2 linked regions of the Homo sapiens genome follow. The protein of the gene in region 1 purifies or fractionates together with the protein of each later gene. This does not show direct contact. Each region holds a gene or a part of one and is shown on either strand. Other genes may lie near its edges. The genes, in order: SEPHS1 and WDR12.

The links.
Region 2: the proteins of SEPHS1 (region 1) and WDR12 fractionate together in Homo sapiens (co-fractionation; 2 studies listed by BioGRID). This does not show direct contact.

Annotation. Positions count from the first base shown.
Region 1 is NC_000010.11:13,321,123-13,337,318, reverse strand, and holds part of SEPHS1 (selenide, water dikinase 1), read left to right. Parts: intron 1-968; coding exon 969-1,076; intron 1,077-3,347; coding exon 3,348-3,502; intron 3,503-7,530; coding exon 7,531-7,621; intron 7,622-8,868; coding exon 8,869-8,968; intron 8,969-14,271; coding exon 14,272-14,484; intron 14,485-16,196. UniProt on the Homo sapiens protein: Synthesizes selenophosphate from selenide and ATP.
Region 2 is NC_000002.12:202,892,763-202,908,958, reverse strand, and holds part of WDR12 (ribosome biogenesis protein WDR12), read left to right. Parts: intron 1-999; coding exon 1,000-1,094; intron 1,095-7,839; coding exon 7,840-7,934; intron 7,935-9,321; coding exon 9,322-9,428; intron 9,429-11,543; coding exon 11,544-11,659; intron 11,660-12,739; coding exon 12,740-12,894; intron 12,895-14,332; coding exon 14,333-14,378; intron 14,379-16,196.

The sequences.
Region 1 (16,196 bases):
AATAAAATGACATCATTTACTGGGAAATGCTTCTTTTTCTTTTGAAAACAATATGACTTCAGCCCTGGGTATTTTTTTATTTGTTTCTTAAGATGATTTTTCTGTTTATCTCATACATCCTTGAAAAGAAGCTACAAAAATTTTTTTTGTTTTTTTTTTGTTGTTGTTTATTGACAGTCTTGCTCTGTTGCCCAGGCTAGAGTGCAGTGGCACGATCTCAGCTTACTGCAACCTCCACCTCCCAGGTTCAAGCAATTCTCATGCCTCAGGCTCCCAAGTAGCTGAGACTACAGGTGTGCACCACCATGCCCAGCTAATTTTTATATTTTTAGTAGAAACAGCATTTTACCATGTTGGCCAGGCTGGTCTTTAACTCCTGGCCTCAAGTGATCCACCTGATTCGGCCTCTCAAATTGCTGGGATTACAGGCGTGAGCTATCACACCCAGCCTAAGCTGCAAACATTTCTTAATCCAAGTGCACAAAGACTATCTCCATCTCTATAACCACTAAAGCCAGCCATTTTTAGAATCTGTTTGGGATATGTGGCTGTTTCCAACTTTTCTTTAGGAGAGTTGTTTGCAGGCTTTTTCGCTCCATAGCTCTTCCCCCAAGACTGTCGGTTCTAAACTTGCTTCTCCTCCTCATTCGCTGCACATATACCCCTTCCCCTATCTAAATAAATTGCAGACTTCTAAAATTTAGAATGGAGAAAAACTGGTACATTCTTTGTCCTGCACAAGAAAGAGGTGGTAACAGGAATGTCTGAGAAAAAACGAATGGCCTAGTGACTCTGTGATGCAGGAAAGGTTGCCAGTCTGCAAATCATAGAAACTGAGGACCCCATCCTAGTAGCTGCTACTCCTGGAAAGTCTCCACGTTCTCTGTGGAGTCCACTCCATGGCTCACTCAGTTTCTGCAGATGGAAAGTCCCCGGTCGTCCTTTCTCATGTTTCCCTCTCTTCCCAGGGCAGGATAGCGTGTGCCAATGTCCTCAGTGACCTCTATGCAATGGGGGTCACGGAATGTGACAATATGCTGATGCTCCTTGGAGTCAGTAATAAAATGACCGACAGGGTAAGTAGGAGCTACCCGGCTGCTGCCTGGTCCGTGTTGTCCCGGTGGCATCTCTGGCCTTGGTTAGACTTGGTTTCCCATCTAGAAAGCGAGGAGCCCAGGCCATATGGCTCCCTGCACTCCTTCTGGCTCTCCACTTTTTGGCAGTTACCAGTAAATTAAAATGAGGAAGCCTGGCCTAGTCATCTCTGCACTTCTGCCACCTGCTCCCTTTCTCTCTTCCCAGTAGACTGAAACCAAGACTTTTTTTTTTTTTTTTTTTGAGACAGGAGTCTCACTCTGTCGCCCAGGCTGGAGTGTAGTGGCGCAATCTCAGTCCACTGCAACCTCCGCCTCCCGGGTTCAAACAATTCTCCTGCCTCAGCCTCCCAAGTAGCTGGGATTACAGGCACGTACCACCACACCTGGCTATTTTGTGTATTTTTATTAGAGACGGGGTTTTATCACGTTGGCCAGGCTGTTCCTGAACTCCTGACCTCAGGTAATCCACCTATCTCGGCATCCCAAAGTGCTGGGATTGCAGGCGTGAAACACCGTGCCCGGCCCAAGGCATTTGTGTATATTTTTTTTTGTTTTATTGAGACAGAGTCTCACTCTGTCACCCAGGCTAGAGTGTAGTGGCACAAGCTCAGCTCACTGCAACCTCCACCTCCCAGGTTCAAGCGATTCTCCTGCCTCAGCCTCCCAAGTAGCTGGGATTACAGGGGCACACCAGCACCCCCAGCTAATTTTTATATTTTCAGTAGAGATGGGGTTTCACCATGTTGGTCAGGCTGGTCTCGAACTCCTGAGCTCGTGATCCACCCACTTCGGCCTCCCAAAGTGCTGGGATTATAGGCATGAGCCACCGTGCCCGACCTGTGCATTTTTTAAAATAAAGTTTTGGCCATAGTAATGGTGCCTCAGTGTGAATCAGGCACAGCCTTACAGATGTGGGACACGTGGCACTTAGAGGGCACTCCCTCTGCTGTGGCTGGGGATGTCGTGGACGTAGATGGTGACGGGGGATAGGGCCACCAGGGGCTCACGCCTCTGTGTCATCGCCTAGCATTCTGTGCCCTTGCTGCCTGAACCTGTTCTTTGAACCAGAGATGAATTCCTATTTAGATAGACAGGTACTTGTTTTTGTCCCAAGAGCCCCCAACAGTTTGCCCTGCCTTAGAGAAACTTGAGTTTCCAGTAGGCTCTTTCCTGCCCTTGAACATGGGCTGTAGTCATCAGTGGTGCATGGTGGTCTTGGCGCAGGCTCTGTCAGTGTGGGTTACTCGTAGCCTGCAGCCAAGCCTTGGTAGGATGGATGCCTACTGCAGGGCAGGGGACCTGTGCTTAGGAAGCCAGTCTTGAGATTCTCAAGGAGCACTGGACAGCTGGCTTCCAGCAGTCATCAGACCTAGGGCTGGTCCTGTGCACTGAGTCCAGACAATGTTGGTGTCTGGGCTTTATTTACATTGTTGTCTAGAACATCTTCCAGCATTGGATAAAATGATGACAATGTGAAATATTTTCTAGCTTTTGTTTTTGTTTGTTTTTGAGACAAGATCTCCCTGTGTTGCCCAGGTTGGAGTGCAGTGGTGTGATGAGAGCTCACTGCAGCAGCCTCAGCCTCCCGGGCTCAAGACATCCTCCCACTTCAGCCTCCGGAATAGCTGGGACCACAGGCACATGCCACCACACCAAGCAATATTTTTTTTTTTTGTTTTTGAGATGAAGTCTCACTCTTGTGCCCAGGGCTGGAGTGCAGTGATGCGATCTTGGCTAACTACAACCTCTGCCTCCCAGGTTCAAGCGATTCTCCTGCCTCAGCCTCCCAAGTAGCTGGGATTACAGGCGCATGCTACCACACCCGGCTAATTTTTGTATTTTTAGTAGAGACGGGGTTTCACCATGTTGGCCAGGCTGGTCTCAAACTCCTGACCTCAGGTGATCTGCCCGCCTCAGCCTCCCAAAGTGCTGGGAATACAGGCATGAGCCACTGTGCCCGGTCACCCAGCAATTTTTACATGTTTCGTAGAGAAAGGGGTCTGTCTGCATTGCCCAGACTGGTCTTAAACTCCTGGGCTCAAGCTCTCTGCCCACCTCGGACTCCCAAAGTGCTGGGATTACAGGCGTGAGCGATTATGCCTGGCCCCTAACAACCTTCCCTGTCTGTAAACTTTGAGGACTTCCTTTAGGATTTTATGGTTCTTTTTATAACTGTAAGTGTAAAAACCTTCTTTTCTGGGTTTTGAACAGAATTCTTTGACTTTTTATTTGTACCTTTTTCAACCTTAGGAAAGGGATAAAGTGATGCCTCTGATTATCCAAGGTTTTAAAGACGCAGCTGAGGAAGCAGGAACATCTGTAACAGGCGGCCAAACAGTACTAAACCCCTGGATTGTCCTGGGAGGAGTGGCTACCACTGTCTGCCAACCCAATGAATTTATCATGTAAGTTGATTTTTGTTTCATATCACCTGACCTGTTTTTCTCTCTCTGTCCTCTCTTTTTAAAAATTGATGTATTAAGGTCAGGTGCAGTGGCTCACACATATGATCCCAGACTTTGGTAGGCCGAGGCGGGCAGATCACCTGAGGTCAGGAGTTTGAGACCAGCCTGGCCAATGTGGCGAAACCCTGTCTCTACTAAAAATACAAAAATTAGCCAGGCATGGTGGGGCAAGCCTGTAGTTTCAGCTACTCTGGAGGCTGAGGCAGGAGAATCGCTTGAACCCCAGGGGTGGAGGTTGCAGTGAGCTGAGATCATGCCCCTGCACTCTAGCCTGGGCAACAGAACAAGATTCTGTCTCCAAAAAAAAAAAAGACAAGAACGCAAGGCTGGGCGCGGTTGCTCATGCCTGTAATCCCAGCGCTTTTGGAGGCCAAGGCGGGTGGATCACCTGAGGTTGGGAGTTTGAGACCAGCCTGACCAACATGGAGAAACCCCATCTCTACTAAAAATACACAATTAGCCAGGCATGATGGTACATGCCTGTAATCCCAGCTACTTGGGAGGCTGAGGCAGGAGAATCACTTGAACCCAGGAGGCTGCGGCTGCAGTGAGCCAAGATCGCGCCACTGCACTCCAGCCTGGGCAACAAGAGCGAAACTCCATCTCAAAAAAAAAAAAAAATAGATGTATTAAGATATAATTTGCGTACTATACCATTCACCCATTTAAAGAGTCAGTGGTTTGGAGTATACTCAGAGTTGTACAGCCATTACCGGAGTTGATGTTAGGATGTTTTCATTGCTACAGGAAGAAACCCCATCCTCCTCGGCTCTCACTGTTCACTCCTGCTCCATCCTGGATTTTGTCACTTAGCATAGTATTAGCATACTTTTAAGGGTCATCTATTTTGTAGCATGTGTCAGTATTTTAATCCTATTTTTAAGACATTTTAGGTGTTTTTGTTTTTTTTTTTTGAGACGGAGTCTTACTCCGTCGCCCAGGCTGGAGTGCAGTGGTATGATCTCGGCTCACTGCAAGCTCCATCTCCCGGGTTCATGCCATTCTCCTGCCTCAGCTTCCCGAGTAGCTGGGACTACAGGCACCTGCCACCATGCCCGGCTAATTTTTTGTATTTTTAGTAGAGATGGGGTTTCACCATGTTAGGCAGGATGGTCTCGATCTCCTGATCTCATGATCCGACCGCCTCAGCCTCCCAAAGTGCTGGGATTACAGGCGTGAGCCACCGCGCCCGGCTGACATTTTAGGTTTTTTAGTTGAAGTATAATTCACGTAACAAAATTTCACATAACATAGAATTCAGCATTTTGAAGTACACAATGTGTTGGTTTTTAGTATTGACAAGGTTGTGCACCCATCACCACTATCCAATTCCAGAATGTTTTCATCACCCCAAAAAGAAGCCCTGTAGCTCACTCCCATTTCCCTCCTGCTCCCATCCTCTGGCAACCAAGAATGTGCTTTTGTCTCTAAGGATTTGCCTGTTCTGGACATTGTATAGAAATGGAATCGTGCAGCATGACATGCTGTGTCTGGCTTCACTCCCATAGCGGAATGTTTTCCGGGTCCATCCGTGTTGTAGCATGAATCGGTATCGCATTCCTTTCCATGGCTGTATAATCCATTGCATGGATGGACCCTGCTTTATTTAGCCATTCCTCAGGTGACGGACCTTTGGGTTGTTTCCACCTATTAGGAATGATGCTGCCATGAACATTCTAAGTTTTTGTGTGGACATAAGTTCCGGTCTCTTGGGTGTATACCTAAGAATTGACTGGGTCATGTGGTAATTATGTTTAACTTGAGGAATCATCAGACTGGTCTCCAACATGGCTGCGCCATTTTACGTTCCCAGCAGCAATGTATGAGGATTCCAATTTCTCTATGACCCCTCCAGTACTTGTTTTCCTGTCTGTCTTTTGGATTCTAGCCAGCCTACTGGGTGTGAAGTGGAATGTCTTTGTGGTTTTGATTTGTGTCTGCCTGATGACTGATGAGGCCGAGCATCTTTTCATGTGCTTACTACCCATTTGTGTATCTTCTTTGGAGAAGTTTCTCTCCTAACCAAGTTGTCACTTTCCATGTTTGATGTCTTGTTAAGAAAAGTCAGTCTTTTGGCCGGGCGTGGTGGCTCATGCCTGTAATCCCAGCACTTTGGGAAGCCAAGACGGGTGGATCATCTGAGGTCAGGAGTTCAAGACCACCCTGGCCAACATGGTGAAACCCTGTCTCTACTAAAAATACAAAAAATTAGCCGGGCACGATGGCAGGCGCCTGTAATCCCAGCTACTCAGGAGACTGAGGAGAGTGGTTTGAACCCAGGAGGCGGAGGTTGCAGTGAGCCAAGATCGTGCCACTGTACTCCAGCCTGGGTGACAGAGTGAAACTCAGTTTCAAAAAAAAAAGATCTAGAATTAGAAATACCATTTGACCCAGCAATCCCATTACTGGGTATATACCCAAAGGATTATAAATCATGCTGCTGTAAAGACGCATGCACACATATGTTTATTGCAGCACTATTCACAATAGCTAAGACTTGGAACCAACTCAAATGTCCATCAATGATAGACTGGATTAAGAAAATGTGGCACATACACACCGTGGAATACTACGCAGCCGTAAAAAAGGATGAGTTCATGTACTTTGCAGGGAGATGGATGAAGCTGGAAACCATCATTCTAAGCAAACTATCAAAAGGACAGAAAACCAAACGCCGCATGTTCTCACTCATAGGTGGGAGTTGAACAATGAGAACACTTGGACACAGGGCGGGTAACATCACACACCAGGGCCTGTCGGGGGTAGGGGGCTGGGGGAGGGATAGCATTAGGAGATATACCTAATGTAAAGGACGGGTTGATGGGTACAGCAAACCAACATGGCACATGTATACCTATGTATCAAACCTGCATGTTGTGTACATGTACCCTAGAACTTAAAGTATAATTTTAAAAAATTTAAAAAAAAAGAACATCAACTTTATGGTACAACTGAGTCTGAATTCGAAGACATTTATGTCTTCAGGTCTGGTTTTTGGAAAACAAGTTTCTTGCGTAGTCACAGAATTCTATTTTTCAAAGCTGAGAGTGGATACAAATGGTATAGGTTGAGCTGGGGAGCTGGGTGTTGGTATTGAAGTCTGTGGCCCTGGCTTTGTTTTCATCGACTTGGGTGAGTACCTGAGGAGGCCAGCATCGGGGAATGGAACGATTCAGGAGCTCAGCTGCTGAAGCTGCGAAAGGCACAACTCTCAGACCTGCTTCCTGGTAGTGTGAATGCAAGTCTGGTAGATGTTTCATTCGGGCACCAGTTGTCATCTTTTAGAGGTGCCTTTTTAGTATTGCCTTCTGTCTCTAAGACAGGGACCACCAAGGCGTCTGGGTGCCAGGTAGGAAACTCACCATCAGTCAGTCTGAGTTTGAGAACCTGGAGGCAGAAATCACCAAGACATTAGACCCACAGATTGCCTGCAAATCCACCAAACCCCTGGGCCGAAAAATCCGTCCTGAGTCTCTAGCATATCAGTGATCATAAAGAAGCACTCTCTGTTTCAGAAGCTTTTGAATGCTAGTGGGTCTGTAGTGAAAATTACACATACACTCGTATGTGGTCGAGGGGAAATCTGGGCCTGATGAAACGTTTGAAGGCTAAATGTTTCATTCTTTTTAAAAATATGTATATTATTTTTGAAATGGGGTCCTTGTTGTGTTGCCCAGGCTGGTCCTGAACTCCTGGGCTCAAGTGATCCTCCCCTCTTGACCTCTCAAAGTGCTGGGGTTACAGAAATGAGCCACTGTGTCCAGCCTGATGGCTGAATGTTTTGTTCCAGCAATAGCCTCAGTAGCAGGTTGCAAGGCTCTGTCCCATACATGCTGGTAGTTGGCTTCAATTTAAGTAAATGCAAAGGCAGATATATTTTTGACAGATTATTCCTTCTCTTGTGTTAATAACAATGAGCTCATCTCCTTGGTTAGTTTGACTAGAACATGCCCTTTTCTTTTCTTCAGGCCAGACAATGCAGTGCCAGGGGACGTGCTGGTGCTGACAAAACCCCTGGGGACACAGGTGGCAGTGGCTGTGCACCAGTGGCTGGATATCGTGAGTAAACCACTGCTGTGATGGGAGGGAGGGGAATGGTACGTTTGCAGGTAATTTTTGTTGGAGGATTTGGGAAATGAGGTTTTTTAGTTTCATATCCAGGGAGTTAATATTAGTCAAGTCCTTAAAGAAATCCTAGGAATTGTTCATAGTCTTTAAATAACAGTTTTGCATATTGAATGCTTGATTGCAGTAGGTAAGCCCCAGCTTGGAGCTTTAAGATTTTTCTGTAAAGAATTTGCTCGGCAGGGGGTTAGCTTTGTTTACTTGGCCCTGAGATAGCTTCGTCTTTCATGTCTTAAACATCACTAAGAAATAATATGAAGGAGAATTGGTGGAAGGCGTAGTGTTTGGGGTATAAATAAAACCAGGGTTATTGACAGTTTAAATTGTTTTATGCAGTTTTTGGTTGTTTTTGTTTGGTAGTTTTGTCTTTTTAAACTGATGAGTAACTCAGAACATTTTGATAAATAATTCTCTTGTGCAGAATGAATCTATCTATAATGAGGATATGTCTTGTGAGTCATTTTTCCAGTGAGCTATAATCATACTTTAAGATTGGTTTTCTTCATTGCCGTAACAACTCACAAATTAATAAGATTGGGGTATATTCTCACATATCATGGTGCATTTAATTTCTACAACTATCATCTGAAACTACCAGTCCTGAGAAACAGTTGAAAGAGAATAATCAATAATTACACGTCTTTCATCAACCTGGTATATCTTAGCTTGATGTCGCAGGGTAGAGAAATTCTCTAAGGCTGCCACGTTCTTTAGCAGTTTTTCCCTCCTCCCCCTGTGATGGGGAGCAGAGCAGAAGGCCACTGCGGGGATGTTGCGCAGAGGTGCCTTCCAGCCCCACCTCCCAGGCCTGAGCTAGCAGGGAGCTGGAAGCAGGTGAGGCAGGGAGTGTCACGGATGGGGGAGCCCTTCTCCACTAGCAGGACACTACACTGCATGTACAGCAGTGCCGCCGTGTGTCCCGCTAGACTACACATACCCAATAAATCACAGCACTTAATTACAGAAATGTGGGATGAGAACAGAAAAGACGCCATGCTGACAGGTCTAATGGACACCTAAAATACTATCCACAGAAAAACCAGAGTTGGAAAATTCAGTTTTCTGAATTAAAGTCCCTAGAAGTTAAATAAGAAAAAGTTGCTGTTTTTCTCAGTTGCTAGAAGTAAAGATTAATCACATTTTCCTCTCTTTCTCTCCCTCACCTACATTTCTATTATCAGCCTGAGAAATGGAATAAGATTAAACTAGTGGTCACCCAAGAAGATGTAGAGCTGGCCTACCAGGAGGCGATGATGAACATGGCGAGGCTCAACAGGACAGGTATGACAGGTGGGAAGGGCGCTTCGGTCCCAGGGGTCCAAGACAGTAAATGTCTTAGGCTTTTCTGGCCACATACTGTCTCAGGGTAGGTGGCCAGATTTTTGGCCAGTGACTACAGACCGTCTTCTCCTGGTACCAGGTTGGCATTCCATAGATCACTGCAGATGGTCCCTGACTTACAGTGCTTTATAATTAAGAAGGAAGTCCTAACTTCTGACATACCAGAGGAACTATTTCTAGAAAGCGTTTGTGTGGGTTACCTATGTAAGATTTGGAAGCAAACCATTCAGAATGGAAATTTAGAAAGTTTAAGATACTGGAGCTATTTCCAGAACATAACCTTGGAAGTCTAGAAGTGCCCCCACTCCCACCCATCCCCTGCATTCCTGCTTAGGTGTAACCACTGAATTTTGTGTTTATTTTCTTGCATTTTAGAATATTTTTATTGCACAGCCCTTGTGTTCTTAAGCAGCAAATTAGTTTTGCATTTTTTTTACTTGTTTTGTTCACCATTGTTCCTGAGAGTCTCCTTGTTATATGTAGCTGTAGTAGATTCCTTTTGGCTGTGTTGATTTTTCCACTGGCTTCTCTGCTCTCCTGTTTCACACTGGGGCGACTGCTATGGACTTCCTTGGCCCAGCCCTCTGAGGCACGTGTAAGAGATCAGTACTGGCTCAGCTTTTATAGATAGTGCCAAACTGTCTTCCAAAGTGTTCACCACAGTTTACAATGGCACACTATGTTTAGAAAGCGTTTTTTAATATGTCTTCTCTTCCCATTTATTTTATACATTTTTTCTACTATAAAAGAATTACATGCTTATTATAGAAAAGTTTTTAGAAAATGGAAAATAGTACAGAAAAAAGTTGTCCATAGTCCCTCCACCCAAAACAGCTCCGGCTAGCATTTTTATGTATTCTTCCAGGACTTTTTTTCATGTTTGGCTGGTGATTTACTATTGTTGTTTTAAAGTAGTGGTTAGTATAAGTTTTCACTATGTAATGGTTAGTATATGTATTTGGAGTGCCTGCTTTTGTTGTTTTGACATGACTAATGTTTCCCATATTATGTATCCTAGTAAACTTTTTTTTTTTTTTTTTTTTTTTTTTTGAGACAGAATCTAACTCTGTCGCCCAGGCTGGAGTCCATTGGTGTGATCTCGGCTCACTGCAACCGCTACCTACCAGGTTCAAGCAGTTCTGTTGCCTCAGCCTTCCCAGTAGCTGGGACTACAGGCACGCATCATCACCATGCCCGGCGGATTTTTGTATTTTTGGTAGAGACAGGGTTTCACTATGTTGGCCAGGCTGGTCTCGAACTCCTGACCTCAGGTGATCTACCCTCCTTGGCCTCCCAAGGTGCTAGGATTATAGGCGTGAGCCATAGTACACATAATTTTTAATGACTAGATAATGTTCTACCAGAGAAATGTACCACAATTATCTTTTACCTATTGTTTTACAATTCATTTGGAAATAAAAATTTTCTGTAATTTGTTGTTACTTGTAAGAAAGTTATAGCCAGGCACAGTGGCTCACACCTATAATCCAGCACTTTGGGAGGTTGAGGCAGGAGGATCACTTGAGTCCAGCAGTTGGAGACCAGCCTAGGCAACATAGTGAGACCCCATCTCGTCTCTTTAGCTGCGCCTGGTGCATTCCTGTAGTCTAAGCTACTCGAGAGGCTGAGGTGGGAGGATTACTTGAGCCCAGGATGTTGAGACTGCAGTGAGTGGTGATCATACCCCTACGCTTCAGCCTGGGTGACAGGGTGAGATCATGTCTCAAAAAAAAAAAAAAAGTTATAGATCAGAGGAACAGAATAGAGAATCCAGAGGTAGGTCCATATTATAGTCAACTGATTTTTTTTTTTTTTTTGAGATGGAGTTTTGCTCTTTCGCCCAGGCTGAAGTGCAGTGGCAGGATCTTGGCTCACCGCAACCTCCGCCTTCCGACTTCAAGTGATTCTTCTGCCACAGCCTCCCAAGTAGCTGGGATTATAGGCGCCCGCCACCACGCCTGGCTAATTTTTGTATTTTTAGTAGAGATGGGTTTTCACCATGTTGGCCAGGCTAGTCTTGAACCCCTGACCTTGTGATCCGCCTGTCTCGGCCTCCCAAAGTACTGGGATTACAGGCGTGAGCCACTGCACCTGGCCTAGTCAACTGATTTTTGACAAAGGAGTAAAGGCAATTCATTGGAGAAAAGAGTCTTTTCACCAAATGGTGCTGGAACAAGTGGACATTCACATGAAGAAAATTATTCTGGATGCAGATCTTATACCTTTCGTGAAGATTAACTCAAAATGAATGTTTAGTGTGTTTTCACACTGCTATAAATAGCCAAGACTGGATAATTTATTTATTCATTTATTATTATTATTATTATTTTTTTTTTTTTTTTTTGAGACTGAGTCTCTTTTTTTTTTTTTTTTTTTTTTTTTTTTTTTTTTTTTTGAGACGGAGTCTCGCTGTCGCCCAGGCTGGAGTGCAGTGGGGTGATCTCGGCTCACTGCAACCTGTGCCTCTCAGGTTCAAGCGATTCTCCTGCCTCAGCCTCTGGAGTAGCTGGGATTACAGGGCGCACGCCACCACACCCCACTAATTTTGGTATTTTTAGTAGAGACGGGGTTTCACCATGTTGGTCAGGCTGGTCTTGAACTCCTGACCTTGGCCTCCCAAAGTGCTGGAATTGCAGGCGTGAGCCACCATGCCCAGCTGACTGGGTAATTTATAAAGGAAAGAGGTTTAATTTACTCACAGTTTCACATGGCTGGGGAGACCTCAGGAAACTTACAGTCGTGGCAGATGGTGAAGGGGAAACAGGCACCTAGGTTCTTCATGAGGCAGCAGGACAGAGAAGAGCAGGGGAAACTGCCACTTACAAAACCATCAGATCTCATGAGAATTCATTCACCCTGACGAGAACAGCACGAGGGAAACCGCCCTCATGATTCAGTCACCTCCCACCAGGTCCCTCTCTTGACATGTGGGGATTACAATTCGAGATGAGATTTAGGTGGGGACACAGAGCCAGACCATATTGATGATTCGTAGACCTAAATAAAACACAACAATATAAAACTGGAAGAAGGTAACATCAGAGAAAATTGAGGTGGCTTTGGGTTTGGTGATGACTTTATAACACCAAAAGCACTATCTATTAAAAAATTGCTAAGTTTGGCTTTATTAATATAAAAAACTTCTGCTCGGTGAAAAACACTGTTAAGGAAATGAAAAGACAAGCCACAGACTGGGAGAAAAATTTTGCCAAACACATACCTGTTCAAGGTCAGGTATCCAAAATATACAAAGGACTCTTAAAACTCAATAATAAAAAACAACTCAATTTAAACATGGCCCAAAGACCTTGACAGACACCATGAAAGAAGATAACGCAGATGGCAAATAAGCATAAAAGGAAACCTTCAGTGTGGTACGTCAATAGGGAACTGTAGATTAAAGCAGTGATTGAGATGCCACCACATACCTGTTAGAATGGCTAAAATCCAAAACACTGAGAATAGCCTGGGCAACATGGTGAAACCCCATCTCTACCAAAAAAATACAAAAAATTAGCTGGGCATGGTGGCTTGCGCCTTAGTCCCAGCTACTTGGGAAGCTGAGGTTGGGAGGATCCCTTGAGCCCAGGAGGTCGAGGCTGCAGTAAGCTGTGATCGCACCACCTCACTCCAGCCTGGGTGACAAAGCGAGACCCTGTCTCAAAAAAAACCCAAAAACACTGATAATACCAACTGCTGGCAAGGATGTAGAGAAACAGGAAGGAACTCTCATTTATTACTGGTAGGACTGAAAACTGGCACAGCCACTTTAAAAGTCAGTTTGGCAGTTTCTTATGAAACTAAATATGTTATTATATGATGCAGCGATTGTGCTCCTTGATATTCACTCAAAAAAGTTGAAAACTTACATTCACACAAAAGCCTGCAGACAAATGTTCATAGCAGCATTATTCATAATTGCCAGAACTTGGAAGCAGCCATTCATTTCTTCAGTAGGTGAGTGGATGAATGGATAAACAAAATGTAGTGTATCTGTATGATGGAATATAATTGAGCAGTAAAAAGAAATGAGCTATCAAGCCATGAAAAGATGTGGAGGAATCTTAAGTGCATATTACTAAGTGAAAGAAGCCAGTCTGAAAAAGCTCCATACAGAAGGATTCCAACTGCATGACATTCTGCAAAACTGTAGAGATGCAGAAAGGATCAGTGGTGGCCAGAGGTTATCGGAGAGGAAGGGGATCAGGTAGAGCAGAGCACTGAGGATTTGTTACTTCCCACTTAATTTCTTTCTAAACGCAAAACTGCTCCAAAAAATAAAGTCTGTAAATTTTTTTAAAATTAAATAATAGGTCGGGTGAATGGATAATTAAATAATAGTAGGTGAGTGGATGAATGGATAAACAAAATGTAGTGTATCTGTAGTATGGAATATTATTGAGCAGTGGCTCACACTTGTGATCCCAGCGCTTTGGGAGGCTGAGGCAGGACGATTGCCTGAGCCCAAGTGCAGTGAGTTATGATCATGCCACTGCACTCCAGCCTGGTCAATAGAGCAAGACTCTGTCTCTTAAAAAAAAAAAAAAGAAAGAAATTTAAAAATAAACTTGCACGCAATTCACCTTTCGCGGGAGTACCTTGATACTGAGCAAGGCCTTCTTAAAAAGTGCTGGTCTTGGCCGGGTGTGGTGGCTCACATCTGTAATCCCAGCACTTTGGGAGGCCAGGGCGGGCGGATCATGAGGTCAGGAGTTCAAGATCAGCCTGGCCAATATGGTGAAACCCTGTCTCTGCTAAAAATACAGAAATTAGCTGGGCGTGGTGGTGCGCACCTGTAGTCCCAGCTATTCAGGAGGCTGAGGCAGGAGAATCACTTGAGCCCTGGAGGCAGAGGTTGCAGTGAGCCGAGATCGTACGACTGCACCCCAGCCTGGATGACAGAGCGAGACTCCATCTCAAAAAAGGAAAAAAGTGCCGGTCTTTGGTTTTAGGATGGTCTTGGCCGGTTTACCTTCCACTGAGATCATAATCCCTCTGCATAGTTTTTTTAGTTTACTGGAAAACTACTATTAATTGAAGCTTCTGATAGTTTTCAGGTGGCTCAAAGTGAAATAAGAACTTTTGGAATTTCACTATGTCTTTGGTTGATTTTACATTGCGTTTTCATTATTCCGATACGTCATCTCCCTGACAAGTAAGGAAGTTGCAGATTAATTGTGGACGTAAGATTTTTGAGTTGAGGAAAGGTGTTTTTTCTCAGAGCCGCCCCCTCTCTCTCCCAGCTGCAGGACTCATGCACACGTTCAATGCCCACGCCGCCACTGACATCACGGGCTTCGGGATTTTGGGCCATGCGCAGAACCTGGCCAAGCAGCAGAGGAACGAGGTGTCGTTTGTAATTCACAACCTCCCGGTGCTGGCCAAGATGGCTGCGGTGAGCAAGGCCTGCGGAAACATGTTCGGCCTCATGCACGGGACCTGCCCGGAGACTTCAGGTACAGGATGCTGGGCGCATCTGAGGACTAAATAGTGAGGCTAACAGAAAGCTCAGCGAGAAAGCAGCAGCCCCACCCCGAGTGGGCCCCCACTCTGTTCGAGTTCCATGCTGCTGACCTCGGCCTCCGCAGCAGCTGGTGCCTTTCCTCCTCCCGGTGGGTCTGGTCCCCGCCATCCTGGGTGGATCCAGCAGCCTTGCTGAGGTTGAGTGGCCTGTGCTCTTTTTGATGCAAGGATATGGTGATGGGGGAAATAAGGTAGCATTCAGTTTTTACTGAAAGCTTCGCATTTGAAATTAACTGTAATACCCCTAGGTTACTTTGAACAGGTGATATTTTTTTCCTTGAAAATTGTCTAACGTTGTTTTAAGAATGATAGAGAGAAAAGGGGCCAGGTGTGGTGGCTCTTGCCTGTAATACTGGCACCTCAGGAGGCTGAGGCAGGCACATCACGTGAGATCAGGAGTTGAAGACCAGCCTGGCCAACATGGTGAAACCCCATCTTCACTAAAAATACAAAAAAAAAGTAGCTGGGCGTGGTGGTCCATGCCTTTAATCCCAGCTGCTTGGGAGGCTGAGCCAGGAGAATCACTTGAACCTGGGAGACAGAGGTTGCAGTGAGCCGAGATTGCGCCACTGCACTCCAGCCTGGGTGACAGAGCGAGATTCTGCCTTAAAAAAAAAAAAAAAAGAAAAGAGAATGATACAGAATAAAAAAGAATGCAATAGGATATTATGTCTTTAAAATGCCATTTTTCTTTTTTCTTAGATGTGCAGTAATTTATTAGAGGAAACATAAATGGAGGATAAACGGGAGATGGAGCAAGCGTAGGTAGAGAGAGCCATCAGACAGCAGTGCAGGTCTGACACCATACGCCCCAGTAGTTTGACTCCTAGGGAGCTTTTATATCCCTTATCATTTTTCTAAGATTAAGCTCCTTTTGTTTCCTGATTAATTTGGTGGCCACATCTGTCCGGAACTTGTGGGACGTCCTCCTCTTCATCATGGCAGGTACTCCAGCATGGCCTGCCGGCCGCCGAGGCCGCCACCCACAGCCTACAGGCTCGCCATCGCTCATTCCCACTCCCGCAGCCCCAGCTGGAGCCAGATGGCGCGTCCTCCTGAAGTACCATTTCTCTTTTGCCCCCTTTGTTCCCTTTACCTTTACTGTTTTCATCTTTTAAGTCTCCCTGTTTTTCCCTTTTTTTCGGTTTCTCTCTTTTTCTATTTCCTTTCCTCTAGAACTCTAGTTTTCTACCCGCAAAAGAGTGGAATCACCTTAGGATTTTAAATATACACATGCCGGCCAGGCCTGGTGGCTCACGCCTGTAATTCCAGCACTTTGGGAGGTCGAGGTCAGGAGTTCGAGACCAGCCTGACCAACATGGTGAAACCCTGTCTCTACTAAAAATACAAAAATTAGCGGGGCGTCGTGGCGTGTGCCCTGTAATCCCAGCTACTCCAGAGGCTGAGGCAGGAGAATCGCTTGAACCCAGGAGGCACAGGTTGCAGTGAGCCAAGATCGCCCCACTGCACTACAGCCTGGGCGACAGAGTGAGACTCTGTCTCAAAAAAAAAAAGAAAAATACACATGCCTAGCCCCAGCCTCCCAAAAACGGTGGGATCCATCTCGGGTGGGCCTGGGCCTCAGCATCTGTGAAGGCTGCCTGGGAGATTCCGTAGTAGGCCGGGGCAAGGGACCACAGTGCTG
Region 2 (16,196 bases), on another chromosome or scaffold:
GACTAATGATGAGCATTTGCATGTCCCTATTGGGCCATTTTAAAATTTGTGTTGTCTTTTTATTATTGAGTTGTAAGTGTTCTTAATATAGTCTAGATACAAGTTCCTTATTAGATACATGATTTGCAAATATTTTCTCACAGTCTCTCTTATAAGAGTCTCCTAATCTGCCTCCTGTCATGTGTTCCTCTATTTCAGTGCCCATTGTGCAGCCAGAAAGATCTAACTAAATAAAATCTGATGATACTTCTAATTTGCACTGCTGTGATAGTTCTTCATTACCCACAAAAAAGAAGTAAAAATGATTTCACATGATATATAAAGCACTCCATGTGTATCTCTTTAGCCTTTGGTCACTTTGGAGCAAAGTCAGATTTTCTGGAAGTGGCTGGGCAGTTTAACAACTCCTAGCTATTGTTTTGATGTTCTCTCTGGTTTCGTCCACACTGCTTCTTCCAGCCTACCCTTCCCTCACCTGGCAAAAACTCACTTCTCTTTTGAGACAGGGTCTTGCTGTGTCACCCAGGCTGGAGTGCAGTGCAGTGGTATAATCTCAGCTCACTGCAGCCTCGACCTCCTGGGCTCAGGCAGTCCTCCCACCTCAGCCTCCCAAGTAGCTGGGACTACGGGCACATGCCACCACGCCTGGCTAATCACTTTTCTAAATGTTGCTTAACAGTTATCTTTTCTGTGGATCGTTTCTGGCCCTGCTCCCCTGCCCTCCTTTTCTGTGGTTAAAATGACCTATGGTGTCTTTGTTCTTTTTATACATGTCACCTAATGGCATTGTTCTTATATAACTTCATTCTATTTGATTACTAAACTTCAACCTCATCTTAGAACAGAGACCATGTTTTAATTCATTTTTGTTTACAACATGTAGCAAAATGTCTGGATGTCTGGCATTTATTTACCCAATAAATGTATGTTGAATTCGTAAAAGCATGTTTGTTCAAATATCTGTAGACTTGATCTTGACATATCATTTCCTTTTTATAGATATGCCGTAGATGATGTTCCCTTCTCAATCCCTGCTGCCTCTGAAATTGCCGACCTTAGTAACATCATCAATAAACTACTAAAGGACAAAAATGGTGGGTATATATGCTTAGGAGAGGGCACAGTGTCCCTAATTATTCTAAAATGCATTAAGTTTTTAGTTCCTTTTTTGGCCTTATGATACTGTATGAATTTTGTAGTGGTAAAATTTGTAAGTTATAAAGTACAGGTTCTTCTGCTGGATGATACTGTAAATACTGCTTTGAAAGAAAAGTTTTCAGAAAAAAATTTCTGTTTAATCTGTTTTTAAGGCCATGTGGAAATATGGTGGTTGTAGTTAAGGAATAAAGATTTTGGTATAAAGTTGTAATATAGAGGTAATCAAGACATTGATTGTTCTACAGAGGGCTGAGTTATGCAGGCATAAAACAAGCGTTTTAGTGCTTAGGCCCCATTTACTAGTGAAGCACAAAGCAAAATGACAATATCAGTATTTGAGTGTTTAGTGTAATATCAAAATGACAGTATGAATACCAGTATTTTATTTTTTGTGTCCAGAATTCATAAAAAAAGGATATAACAAAACATGGAAGAATATAAAACATTTAAAAGATACAAATATTAAATATATACTATTGTACTAATATAAGTTATTTGCCCATTAAATTAATATGAACAATGTATGTAAAAATATCAATGAAATAAGATTGGCTATGAGTTAATAATTGTTGAAGTTTGTAATCCCAGCACTTTGGGAGGCCGAGGCGGGTGGATCACGAGGTCAGGAGTTTGAGACCAGCCTGACCAACATGGTGAAACCCCGTCTCTACTAAAAATACAAAAATCAGCCAGGCGTGGTGGCACATGCCTGTAATCTCAGCTGCTAAGGAGGCTGAGGCAGGAGAATTGCTTGAACCCGGGAGGCGGAGGTTGCAGTGAGCCAAGATCGCACCATTGCACTCCAGCCTGGGTGATAGAGGAAGTCTCAAAAAAAAAAAAAATGTTGAAGTTTGGTGATAGGTGTAAGGAGGCTCCTTATATTATTTTCTGTATCTCATTGTAGTTTTGATTGATATTTCTGAACTTTTCCATATGTATGAAATTTTCTATAATAAAGTATTTTTTAAAAAGTAAAGAAACATTACATAAAATAGAGAAAATTTAAACATGAAACATTAAGTGATTCTCCTGCCTCATCCTCCAGAGTAGCTGGAATTACAGGTGCCCGCTACCATGCCTGGCTAATTTTTTGTACTTTTAGTAGAAACGGGGTTTCACCATTTGGCGAGGCTGGTCTCGAACTCCTGACCTCAGGTGATCCACCCTCCTGGGCCTCCCAAAGTGCTGGGATTACATGTGTGAGCCACCATGCCCAGCCAGAGGCAAGTGTATTTTTATGCAGATGTTTCCAATGCTGCAGAGCTCTTCTGACTCTACCGTAGTTGGAGGAATGAGGAGGTAAGAGTTATAAACTAATGTGTAGTATTTTCCCCATCTTCGTCTTCAAATAATCACATAATTTTTTTGTGAAATTTGAGGTGATGTTTTTGAGCAACTTTATTGGCTTGGGGTGGGGGAGGAGGGGACAGGGTTTGCAATCTTTTTATTGCTAGTTACAGTTCAATATTCAATATTCAAGGATATTTACATAGCATTTCCTGTTGCTCCTTGTTTTTGTTTTCATCATGGATATATAGAGATTCTGATGCATAGTTACCTTTATAAATTTCAAAACTGTTATATAGTCTATTTGTTGAACAAGTCTTTGAACTAGAATAAGAAATATTCTTTTTAATTTTTGTAGGTACGTGGTAGGTGTATCTATGGGGTACATTAGATATTTTGATACAGGCATATAAGGTGTAATAATCACATCAGGGTAAATGAGGTATCCATCACCTCAAGCATTTATCCTTTGTGTTACAAACAATCCAATTATACTCTTCGTTGTTTTTAAATGTATAATTAAATTATTGACTATAGTCATCCAGTTGTGCTATCAAATACAAGATCTTATTTATTCTTTCAATTCTTTTGTACCCATTAACCATCCATTTCCACTTGCCTCTCACTTCCCCCACTACCCTTCTCAGTGTCTGGTAACTCTCCTTCTACTCTGTATCTCCATGAGTTCAATGTTTTAATTTTTAGCTCCCACAAATAAGTGAGAATATGCAAAGTTTGTTTTCTGTGCCTGGCTTATTTCACTGAACATAATGACCTCCAATTCTACCCATGTTGTTGTAAATGACAGGATCTCATTCTTTTTTATGGCTGAATAGTACTCCATTGTGTAGAAGTATTGATTTCCTGATTTCTCTACTTTTGAGTATATACCTAGCAGTGCTATTGCTGGATCATATGGTAGCTCTATTTTTAGTTTTTTGAGGAATCTCCAAACTGTTCTCCATAGTAGTTGTACTAATTGACATCCCCACCAAGGTTTATGAGGGGTCCCTTTTCTCCATATCCTCACCAGCATTTTTTATGGCGTGACTTTCAGATAAAAGCCATTTTGGCCTGGCGTGGTGGCCCACGCCTGTAATCCCAGCACTTTGGGAGGCCAAGGTGGGTGGATCATGAAGTCAAGAATTTGAGACCAGCCTGGGCAAAATAGTAAACCCCATCTCTACTACAAATACAAAAATTAGCCAGGCATGGTGGCAGGTGCCTGTAAACCCAGCTACTCAGGAGGCTGAAGCAGGAGAATTGCTTGAACCCGGGAGGCGGAAGTTGTAGTGAGCCGAGCTCGTGCCACTGCACTCCAACCTGGGTGACAGAGCAGGACTCCGTCTTGGGAGGGGTGGGGAAAAACGCCATTTTATCTGGGGTGAAATGATATCTCATTGTAGTTTTGATTTGTATTTCACTGATGATCAGTGATGGTGAGCACCCTTTCATTTACCTGTTTGCCATTTGAATTTTCTTTTGAGAAATGTATGTTCAAACCTTTTGCCCAATTTTTAATCAGATTATTAAATTTTTACCTACAGAGCTTTTTGAGCTCCTTATATATTCTGGTTATTAATCCCTTGTCAGATGGGTAGTTGGCAAATAATTATTCCCATTCTGTGGGTTGTCTCTTCACTTTGTTAATTGTTTCCTTTGCTGTGCTTTTTAACCTGATGGGATCGCATTTGTCTATTTCTGCTTTGATTGCCTGTGCTTGTGTGGTATTACTCAAGAAATTTTTGCCCAGACCACTGCCCTGGGGAGTTTCCCCAATGTTTTCTTGTATTAGTTTCATAGTTCGAGGTCTTACAAATATTTAAGTCTTTAATCCCTTTTGTTTTGACTTTTGTATGTGGCAAGAGATAGGGGTCTAGTTTCATTTTTTTTGCATATGGATACCCAGTTTTTCCAGCACCATTATTGAAGAGACTGGCTGTTCCCCAGTGTAGGTTTGAGTTCACTGTAGATGTGTGGATTTGTTTTGGCTTCTCTATTCTGTTCCATTGGTGTATGTGTCTGTTTTTATGCCAGTACCATGCTGTTTTGGTTACTATAGCTCTGTAGTATAATTTGAAGTCAGGTAATGTGATTCCTCCAAGTTTGTTCTTTTTGCTTAAGGTAGCTTTGGCTATTCTGGTTCTTTTGTGGTTCCATGTAAATTTTAGGATTTTTTTTTTTCTGTGAAGAATGTCATTGGTATTTTGATAAGGATTGCATTGAATCTGTAGGTTGCTTTGGGTACTATGGACATTTTAACAATATTAAATTCTTCCAATCCATGATCCTGGAATATCTTTCCATTTTTTTGTGTCCTCTTCAATTTCTTTTTTTCTTTTTCTTTTCTTTTTTTTTTTTTTTTTTTTTTTTTTGAGACAGAGTTTCACTCTTGTTGCCCAGGTTGGAGTGCAATTGCGTAATCTCACCTCATGGCGACCTCCACCTCCCGGTTTCAAGCGATTCTCCTGCCTCAGCCTCCTGAGTAGCTGGGATTACAGGTGCCTGCCACCACGCCCAGCTAATTTTTGTATTTTTAGTACAGCCTTGGTTTCACCATGTTGGCCAGGCTGGTCACGAGCTCCTGACCTCAGGTGATCCACCCGTCTCAGCCTCCCAAAGTTCTGGGATTACAGGCATGAGCCACTGCACCCAGCCCTCTTCAATGTCTTTCATCGATGTTTTATAGTTTTTGTTGTAGAGATCTTTCACTTCTTTGGTTAATTCCTAGGTATTTTATTTGTGGCTACTGTAAGTAGAAATACTTTCTTGATTTCTTTTTCTGATTGTTCGCTGTTAGCATATAGAAATGCTACTGATTTTTGTATCATGCAACTTTACTGAATTTATCAGTCCTAATTGGTTTTTGGTAAAATAAAGATTATATCAAATATAACGTTATATCATTGATTTTTCCAAATATAAGATCAAATCATCTGCAAACAAGGATAATGTGACATCTTCCTCTCCAATTTGGATGCCCTTCCTCCCTCCCTCCCTCCCTCCCTCACTTCCTTCCTTCCTTCCTTCCTTCCTTCCTTCCTTCCTTCCTTCCTTCCTTCCTTCCATCTGATTGCTCTAGCTAGGACTTCCATTGCTGTGTTGAATAACAGTGGTAAAAGTGGGCATCCTTATCATGTTCCAGATGTTAGAGGAAAGGCTTTCAGTTTTTTCCCCATTTAGTATGGGGGTCTATTATATATGAATTTTATTATGTTGAAGTATGTTTTTCTATACCCAGTTTTTTGAGGGCTTTTATCATGAAAGGATGTTGAATTTTATCAAATGCTTTTTCAGCATCAATTGAAATGATCATATGCTTTTTGTCCTTCATTCTGTTGATATGATGTATATATTAGGGTTCTTTAGAGGGACAGGACTAATAGAATAGATGTATATATGAAAGAGAGATTTTTTGTTTTTTTGGTTTTTTTTGAGACGGAGTCTTGCTCTGTCGCCCAGGCTGGAGTGCAGTGGCACGATCTCGGCTCACTGCAACCTCCACCTCCCGGGTTCAAGCAATTCTCCTGCTTCAGCCTCCCGAGTAGCTGGGATTACAGGCGCGTGCCACCACACCCGGCTGGCTAATTTTTGTAGTTTTAGTAGAGACGGGGTTTCACCATGCTGGTCAGGCTGGTCTTGAACTCTTGGCCTCCCAAAGTACTGGGATTACAGGTGTGAGCCACTGCGCACAGCCGAGAGGGAGTTTATTAAGGAGTATTGACTCACACGATCACAAGATGAAGTCCTACGATAGGCTGTCTGCAAGATGAGGAGCAAGGAGGCCAGTCCGAGTCCCAAAACCTCAAAAGTAGGGAAGCCGGCAGTACAGCCTTCAGTCTATGGCCAAACACCTGAGAATCCCTGGCAAACCACTGGTCCAAGAATCCAAAAGCTGTAGAACTTGGAGTTCAATGTTTGAGGGCAGGAAGCACAGGAGTAAGATAAAGGCCTGAAGACTGATCCAGTCTAGTCCTTCCACATTCCTCTGCCTCCTTTTATCCTAGCCATGCTGGCAGCTGATTAGATGGTACCTACCCAGATAGAGGGTAGGTCTGCCTCTTCCATTCCACTGTCTCAAATGTTCATCTCGTTTGGCATCACCTTCACAGACACACCCAGGAACAATACTTTGCATCCTTCAATCCAATCAAGTTGACACTCAGTGTTAACCATCACAGTGTATTACATTGATTTGTGTATGTTGAACTATTCTTGCATCCCTGGGATAAATCTTACTTGGTCATGATGATCTTCTTAATGTGTTGTTGAATTTGGTTTGCAAGTATTTTGTTGAGGAAAGAATTATTCCTGTAAGAGAAGCTTTGCAATTCCAGTATGTTACCCAAATAGTTGGGTAACATTTTTCTAAACATATAGACCGAACATTATTCCTTCTGTATAGACTGTTACCATATTGCAACTCTGAAAGAAATGAATGTAAGTACAGTATTGGTTCTCAATAGCTGTTAATCCCGATAATTAGGTAAAAGACTGACAAGGAGCATTATGGTGGATAGAATCAGACTGATATAATCCAAGCCCTATGATGGGTCTTAATATCTTAAAAAGAGACACAACCAGAACCTATTTACATCCTGATGGGATGTAACAGGAAATAGACAATACTGCCTGTGAATATTCTTGTCAAAAAAAACCCAAAAAACCCTGAAATCTAACCAGGCATTTACCATTTACCTCTGACTAGTTTATAGGATATTTGTGTGATAAAGAAGCATGTTAAAGGACACCTTGGAGATGGAGTCAACAAAACCCAGAATGTTACAAAACAGATGACCCACTTTCATCAACAAATACATGGCAAGGAGAAAAAGGAGGAGGAACTGTTAAAGATTAAAAGAAACATTAATCAAATATAATGTATGGATTATGGATGCTGATTTTTGAAAGCTCACTGTAAAAGAACATTGACTATTTGATGTTAGAAGGAGTGATTGTTAAATTTTAAAATATTGTGACAAATTTTTGAAGTCCTTATATTTTAGAGATACATACTAAAGTATTTACAGATGAAATGATATAATTTCTGAGATTTGCTTTAAAATAAACCAGCCGGGGAATGGAGGGTGGAATATAGATGATGTCCCATTAGTTGGTGGATGTCAAAATGGGCAATAGTGATGAGATTCATTGTTATTTCTACTTTTGTGTATGTTTGAAATAATAAAAGTTTTCTAAACCAAAATAATTACACCAACAACAGTAAAAAGACATTATACTAACAGAACAAAGTATTTCTGATCTTAAAAATCACAGAGAAACTCAGGCCACACTGGGATAATAGGTACCTGTTTGTTTTGGGAGTTCTCATATACCTCTGCCAATATTACTTTAGACACTAAGAGTGATAATTTTGTTATGTATTTTCCTCAGAGTTCCACAAACATGTGGAGTTTGATTTCCTTATTAAGGGCCAGTTTCTGCGAATGCCCTTGGACAAACACATGGAAATGGAGAACATCTCATCAGTAAGTTCAAATTCTTATCTTCTGTATTTCACTTGAGGCATTATCGGCTATTGTAGGTAAACTCCTTTTAGAATCACACTGAATCTATCTTTAGTAGCAAAGATTCTTTTTAATATATTGGCTATATATGTTGTGTGTGTTATGTATTGTGTGTATATTTTATGTGTGTATTGAATATATATAGTGTGTGTGTATATATATATGTATATTCCTGTATATTCAATTTTGAAGCCCTCTTTTTTTGTGAGAGTGTTTTATTCAAGAAATAAATGAACACATTCTTTATATTTGTGGAAGAACTGGCAAGAAAGGGAATAGCAAATATGTGTGTACAAATACTGGTGCACAAAATAACTGGGCAAATATAAAAACTATGGGTTAAGTTACTGTTATTTTTCCCTTTTATTTTCAAAGTTTCCTTATATTGCTTTTATGATTAAAAATATAACTTATAATTGTTGCTTGTTTTGTGATTTTAAAAATTGTGGTAAAATATACATAACATAAAATTTAGAATTTTAACCATTTTTAAGTATACAATTCAGTGGCATTAAGTGCCTTTGCAGTATTATGCAACCATCACCATTTTCCAGAATTGTTTCCTTATCCTAAACAGAAGACCTGTACCCATTAAACAATGTGCTTTTTTTCTTAATTTTAATGTTTTCTTTTATCTTCTTTTTTTTTTTTTTTTCTGAGACAGAGTCTCCATCTGTTGCCCAGGCTGGAGTGCAATGGCACAGTCTTGGCTCACTGAAACCTCTACCTCCTGGGTACAAATGATTCTTGCGCCTCAGCCTCCAAAGTAGTGGGATTGCAGGCATCTGCCACCACGCCTGGCTAATTTTTGTATCTTCAGTAGAGACAGAGTTTCACCATGTTGGCCAGGCACATCTTGAACTCCTGATCTTAGGTGATCCACCCGTCTCGGCCTCCCAAAGTGCTGGGGTTATGGGTGTGAGCCACTGCACCTGGCCTAAGGCTTTCTTATATTCCTTTCCCCCCCATTTGCAGCATAAGTTGTACAAGGCGATTAATATTTCTTCTTTTTAAAATTTTTGTTAGGAGACAGGGTCTTGCTTTGTTGCCTGGGCTGGACTTGAACTCCTAGGCTGAAGCAGTCCTCCTGCCCCAGCTTTCCTAATGTTAATAGCTGGGACTACAGGTGTGAGTCACCATGCCAAGCTATTATTTCCTAATATCACTCTTAGCTTACAGTTAGGTCAAATAAAGTTCTTGACTTTTTGAATGGCTCCAAATTTGCTGAGTTATAAAGGGGACTAATATGAAGGATATAAAGGAGATATATTAAATTGGGGGTTATCTTCATAATGTAATATTTTAAAACTAGACCACCTGACTTGTTGCTGGTTTCTCTTGTGATTAGGAAGAAGTTGTGGAAATAGAATACGTGGAGAAGTATACTGCACCCCAGCCAGAGCAATGCATGTTCCATGATGACTGGATCAGTTCAATTAAAGGGGCAGAGGAATGGTATTGCCAGATTAATGCCCTTCTCTTTTTTTTGTTTTGTTTTTACCTCCTTCAGTCTTTTTAAATCCATATATACATATTTTTCTGTGATTTAATGTTATTTGTAAATTAATTTTGTGATCTCTGTATCAGTGGCCATGGCAAACAGAAAGATCTTTTCATTCAGTGTCTTCAAGAAGAAACAGGTGGCTGGGTGCAGTGGCTCATGCCTGTAATCCCAGCACTTTGGGAGGCCGAGGAGGGTGGATTACGAGGTTGGGAGATCGAGACCATCCTGGCTAACATGGTGAAACCCTGTCTCTACTAAAAAAGTACAAAAAATTAGCCGGGCGTGGTGGTGGGCGCCTGTAGTCCCCGCTACTTGGGAGGCTGAGGCAGGAGAATGGCGTGAACCTGGGAGGTGGAGCTTGCAGTGAGCTGAGATGGCCCCACTGCACTCAAGCCTGGGCAACAGAATGAGACTCTGTCTCAAAAAAAAAAAAAAAAAAAAAAAAAAAACCACAGGTATTTATTAATAGGTACTCTTTTTCTGTTCTGTTCAATATGTGGTAGTAACAATTATTGTTGCCTTTTTTTTTTTTTTTTTAAACGGGGTCTCTCTCTCTTGCCCAGGCTGGTCGCAAACTCCTGGGCTCAAGCAGTCCTCCTGCCTCAGCCTCCTGAATAGGTGGGATTTCTCTACACCCAGCAATATTTGTCTTCTGAATAAGTCATGTATCTTAGAGCATTTAATTTATTTGGTTCGATTATGTTGCTTTTAAGACCAAGGATATAGTTTGTTTCATAAAGGAAAAAAGTAACTTTTATAGCCATAGATCTCCTGGCCTAATACCTTAAAGATGCATAGCATACTATTTTAGGGCTAGAAGGAGCAGACTGGACTCAGCAAAGAAGGTACAGATATCTTAGGGCAAATCCTCACTGGCCTTACTTGTAGGAAAACAACTCAAGAGTAGATTATGGTAGGAGCTTCTTTCAAAGAATGCCTTCTTGGAGTTATTACATAAAGTTATATTTCTCCTAGTTTTACTTTTAGTTTAAATGGTTTTCACTGGTTAAGTACAAAATACTTCAGGTGGACAGCCAGGCGCGTGGCTCACGCCTGTAATCACAGCACTTTGGGAGCCTAAGGCAGGTGGATCACTTGAGATCAGAAGTTTGAGACCAGCCTGGCCAAAATATTGAAACCTGTCTCTACCAAAAATATAAAAAATTAGCCAGGTATGGCGGTCTGTGCCCATAGTCCCAGTTACTCGGGAGGCTGAGGCAGGAGAATCACTTGAACCCAGGAGGCAGAGGTTGCAGTGAGCTGAGATCGCGCCACTGCCTTCCAGCCTGGGCAACAGAGCAAGACTCCATCTCAAAAAGAAAAAAGAGTACTACAGGTTGGGTATTCCTTATCTGGAAATGTTTGGTACCAGAAGTATTTTGGATGTAGGATTTTTTTTGGGTGGGGGTGGTTTTGGAATATTAACATATACATAGTGAAATATTTTAGGGATGTGATCCAAGTCTAAACATGAAATTCATTTATGTTTCATATACAGCTTATACACCTAGCCTGAAAGTAATTTTATACTATGTATATATATGATATATATTTTTTATATATATATATATATTTTTTTTTTTTTTTTTTTTTGAAACGGAGTCTCGCTCTGTCACCCAGGCTGGTGTGCAGTGGCGCAATCTCGGCTCACTGCAAGCTCTGCCTCCTGGGTTCACGCCATTCTCCTGCCCCAGCCTCCTGAGTAGCTGAGACTACAGGCACCCGCCACCATGCCTGGCTAATTTTTTGTATTTTTAGTAGAGACAGGGTTTCACTGTGTTAGCCAGAATGGTCTCGATCTCCTGACCTCGTGATCCGCCTGCCTCAGCCTCCCAAAGTGCTGGGATTACAGGCGTGAGCCACCACGCCCAGCCATGCCAGGTATTATTTTTAGGAGGTTGAGAAACGTCAAGTGATCTGATCTAGTATGGCTTGAAATCTCAATCTTCATATCAAAAAAGAGTTTAAAAGTATAATCCTCAAAGTTACTTTGTCATTGCCAAAGAAACATTTCAGGGTTTGGAAAAACTGCTTTTTGTGTTTCATAAGATTTTTTTTTCTCATAGGATCTTGACTGGTTCTTATGATAAGACTTCTCGGATCTGGTCCTTGGAAGGAAAGTCAATAATGACAATTGTGGGACATACGGATGTTGTAAAAGATGTGGCCTGGGTGAAAAAAGGTTAGGACAGTTTGCCTACACTTAGAGGAATCCTAGATAGGGATTTGGAAATAAGCCATTTTTGGTGCTGGGGAAGAATGGGGAGTGGGTGGGAAGTATCTCATACCTCAGTTATTATGAGGTCTTTCAAAAAATACAGTGTTCAAGAAGAAAAAGATTATATAAAAAATTCATAAATTGTTAGAAGTGTATCTTTATTAAAATTACATCAGATAATATACATTTTCAAGTTAATATTGAATGTATTACATTCATCTTTTATTTTCTTCTGTTTTTGTTTGTTTGTTTTGTTTTGTTTTGTTTTGTTTTGTTTTTGAGATAGTCTCGCTGTGTCACCCAGGCTAGCGTGCAGTGGCATGATCTCGGCTCACTGCAACATCCACTTCCCAGGTTCAAGCGATTCTCCTGCCTCAGCCTCTCGAGTAGCTGGGACTACAGGCACCTACCATCACGCCTGGCTAATTTTTGTATTTTTAGTAGAGACGGGGTTTCACCATCTTGGCCAGGCTGATCTCGAACTCCTGACATCATGATCCACCCGCCTTGGCCTCCCAAAGTGCTGGGATTACAGGCGTGAGCCACTGCACCCAGCCTGTTTGTTTGTTTTTTGAGGCAGAGTCTCACTCTGTCGCCCAGGCTAGAGTGTAGTGGCTCCATCTCAACTCACTGCAACTTCCACCTCCTGAGTTCAAGTGATTCTCCTGCCTCAGCCTCCTGAGTGGCTGCAATTACAGGCGCCTGCCACCACACCCGGCTAATTTTTATATTTTTAGTAGAGGCAGGGTTTTGCCATGTTGGCCAGGCTGGTCTCAAACTCCTGACCTCAAGTGATCTGCCTGTGTTGGCCTCCCAAAATGTCAGTATTTACAGGCGTGAGCCACCACACCCAGTCATCGTCATCTATTTTTGAAGAATCTTTTCTTTATACCACATCAGCCTTTTAAAACCTGGCCATATGAGTTATCTTTTTAACATCTTTTTCAATAACAACAAAAAAATTTAGTTCTTTGGTTTCAGAACATGATGTATTCTAAATGGTATACTGATTTGTTTCTTATTCTTGTGTTCTCCTTTCTCCAGATAGTTTGTCCTGCTTATTATTGAGTGCTTCTATGGATCAGACTATTCTCTTATGGGAGTGGAATGTAGAGAGAAACAAAGTGAAAGCCCTACACTGCTGTAGAGGTCATGCTGGAAGTGTAGATTCTATAGCTGTTGATGGCTCAGGAACTAAAGTAAGTAGCTAGAATATTATTAGTACTCTGTTAAATTTGAATTTGAGCTTGTTGCTAAACATTTTCTTCTGCATATATTCATTGTGTTGGCCTAGTTTCCTAACAATCGGTGACAAAAGATAGGATTTCAAAGCAAGAGTAAATACTCATACAATAGGAGATAGTCACTTGCTCAGTTTGAATCCCTGGTTTAGAACCTTATATAAACTCCAGAAATTTTAAGAAATGAGGTATGGGCCGGGCGCGGTGGCTCACGCCTGTAATCCCAGCACTTTGGGAGGCCGAGGCGGGCAGATCACCTGAGGTCAGGAGTTCAAGACCAGCCTGACCCACATGGAGAAACCCTGTCTCTACTAAAAAAAAAAAAAAAAAAAATAAGCCGGGCATGGTGGCGCATGCCTGTAATCCCAGCTACTCGGGAGGCTGAGGTAGGAGAATCACTTGAACCCGGGAGACAGAGGTTGCAGTGACCGAGATTGCACCGTTGCACTCCAGCCTGGGCCCAACAAGAGTGAAACTCAGTCTCAAAAAAAAAAAAAAAAAAAAAGAAAGAAATGAAGTAAACAAGCCATTCATTTATATAACCTTCTTACCTCATAGTAATTGACATATTTCCAGTCTATATCAGCTACTCTTAAGTGCTGTCATCAACTGAAAACGCCTAGTTGATAGTCTGAGCATTAGCATACACTAAAGTTAGTGCTAATAGAGTTTTACTATAGTATCAATCTACTCTTTATCATGACAAAATGGTAAAAGTTAGTTAAAAGGTAACAAACCTGAGGGCAATACCATATTGATTTATTAATATGAAGGGTTATAAATCCACTTAGAATTTGAAAGTTTCCTAAGCCACATTGAAGTATTCTGGACTTAAGAGTGTTTCTTTGACAGTTAGGGTAACAGGATGCTTGTATTCAAAGGTGAAGATTTATGATTTTTCATATTGAGCCGAAAAGTTTTATATGTTGTTTAGTCCAAACTTTAGTGGATTAACTGTACCTCTTCTTTTTGGTTAAGGAGAGATAGAAACTCAACTTGAACTTATTTAACCTTAAAAGTAAATGGATTGTGAGATCCAAGGAAAGATTGAACAACCACATCACAAGAAGGGTAATGGTGCATTTGGGCCTCAGGAACCAGTGGAATAGAGGCTTGAATGTGGTCCGCACACCCTCTCGCTGTCTTGTCCCTCAAGTTGACTTTATTCTCTCTCACTTCAGATTGGCTTTCTTCAAAAGACATGGCAATAAGCTTGGCCTTCAAGATTTCCCAGATTTTATGTTCTGTCCTATCTGCCCCTGGAAAAAGGCTAATTTCAGTTCTGTGGAACACAAGTTCTTTGAAAAGGTCCTGAATGAGGAAGAGACCTACTGTTGTAGGCAAATAATATGAATCATATTACATATGTCTTTTCCCTTCATATACATCTGTTTAGTTTTGCAGTGGCTCCTGGGATAAGATGCTAAAGATCTGGTCTACAGGTAAATTAAATATTTATTTTACCTTGACTTAATAATGTTGTTTCAAAAATTTAAATTCGGAGGCTATATGGTGGCTTACGCCTATAATCTCAGCACTTCAGGAAGCCAGGGTAGAAGGATCACTTGAGGCCACGAGTTCAAGAGCAGCCTAGGCCACATAGTGAGACCCCGTCTCTACTAAAAGTAGAAAATTAAAATTAGCAAGGTGTGGTGGTATGCACCGGTAGTCCTAGCTCCTTGGGAGGCTGAGGTAAGGGGATTGTTTGAGCCTAGGAGTTTGAGGTTTCAGTGAGCTATGATACCATGCCACTGCACTTCAGCCAGGGTGATGGAGTGAGAACCTGTCTCAAAAAAAAAAAATCAGTTTAGTGAAAGGGGACTTTTTAACCCATATTTTGCCATAAAAAGAGACCAGTATGGCAACAAATTCATATATTTCTTTGTGTTTCAAGATTTTTTTTTTCCTACCCCACCACCCCCTTACTTACAGGATAGTGTCACTGAATTGCAAGTATCAAAAACATGTTTGGTGCAATAGGACATAAATACCTTGATTCTCAAAGTTCTCTTATTCAGGAAACTTGGAAGTAAATAAAAATACTTTCCGAGCCATTTTGACTTAAGTAATGTAAGAATGACTTTTGAGTCATTTTACTGTTAATTTCTTAGGTAAGCTGGTTTACTTAAAAAAATTTTTCAATGCAGTTTTACCAATATTAATATTTTTACTCTGAAAGCATAGATTAAAAGGAGCAAATTGAGGGAGGAGGAGGAAGGACTTTGAGAGGAAGGTGCTTTCATAGTAGTAAGAAGACACTGATGAGAAGAAAAGAGGAAAAAACACACACCCATAGATACTTACATTTTAAGACCTAGTAGCTACAACTATTTATTGCATAGGTAAACAAATCAGAATACCTCTGTTACTTTTTAGGTAATTGCTGTGTTACACAGTATAATACCCCAAATGCATTTCACAAAGACTTGAGGGGGATCAAGAAAAGCTTAACCAGTTTTGAATAATTATGTGTAAGATGGTGGGAAATATATAATCCGTTTTAGTAGATTTTACAAAAATGATGAAAGCAAATAATTTGGTGGCAAAAAGTGATTTAGTTTAGAAAATTCTTTAGTAGAATTTTTTATTTTTTGATAGGGCTGAGTAAATGAGATTGTATATGATTAGCTATTAACTTTAAGTGGTTTATAATCTAGTTTGAGAAATATTAATATCCATAAAAGCCACAAAACGTTTTAATGTTTTACATATTTTGTTACATATTTAATGTAACATAATATGCATGTTACTATATATAACATATAATGTAACATACATTACATATTTAATGTTGCATATTTTATGTAGTTTTCAATCTGGGTTTGCTGCTTAACCAAGTGATGTATAACAAAGATTTTAAAAACTCAAAAAAACCAGAAACATTTTTGGTAGAAAAATGAAATTAAGAGAATAAACATGGCTGAAATGTATGTGCGTTTATCATGTGTTTACTTTATCCTTCCCTCCTTCATAATGTAAATGTAATGTCATAACTCTCCTACAACTAACAGTAAGCAATTTTTCATAGCTATGATAAAATGATAAATATTTATAATGATGACCTTAAAGATAGCAAGATTTTAAATTACTTAGATTTTAGTTTTCTAATATAGTTTATGTTTTATTTTTTATTTTTAGAGATTGGTAATCTAGGTAATATTTTATATATAACTTTCTGTTAACCAAAATGATGAGGAATATTCATTCCCTAACTGTGTGATAACGTGGAAAAACTATATCTGGAAATGTAAAGAATTCTT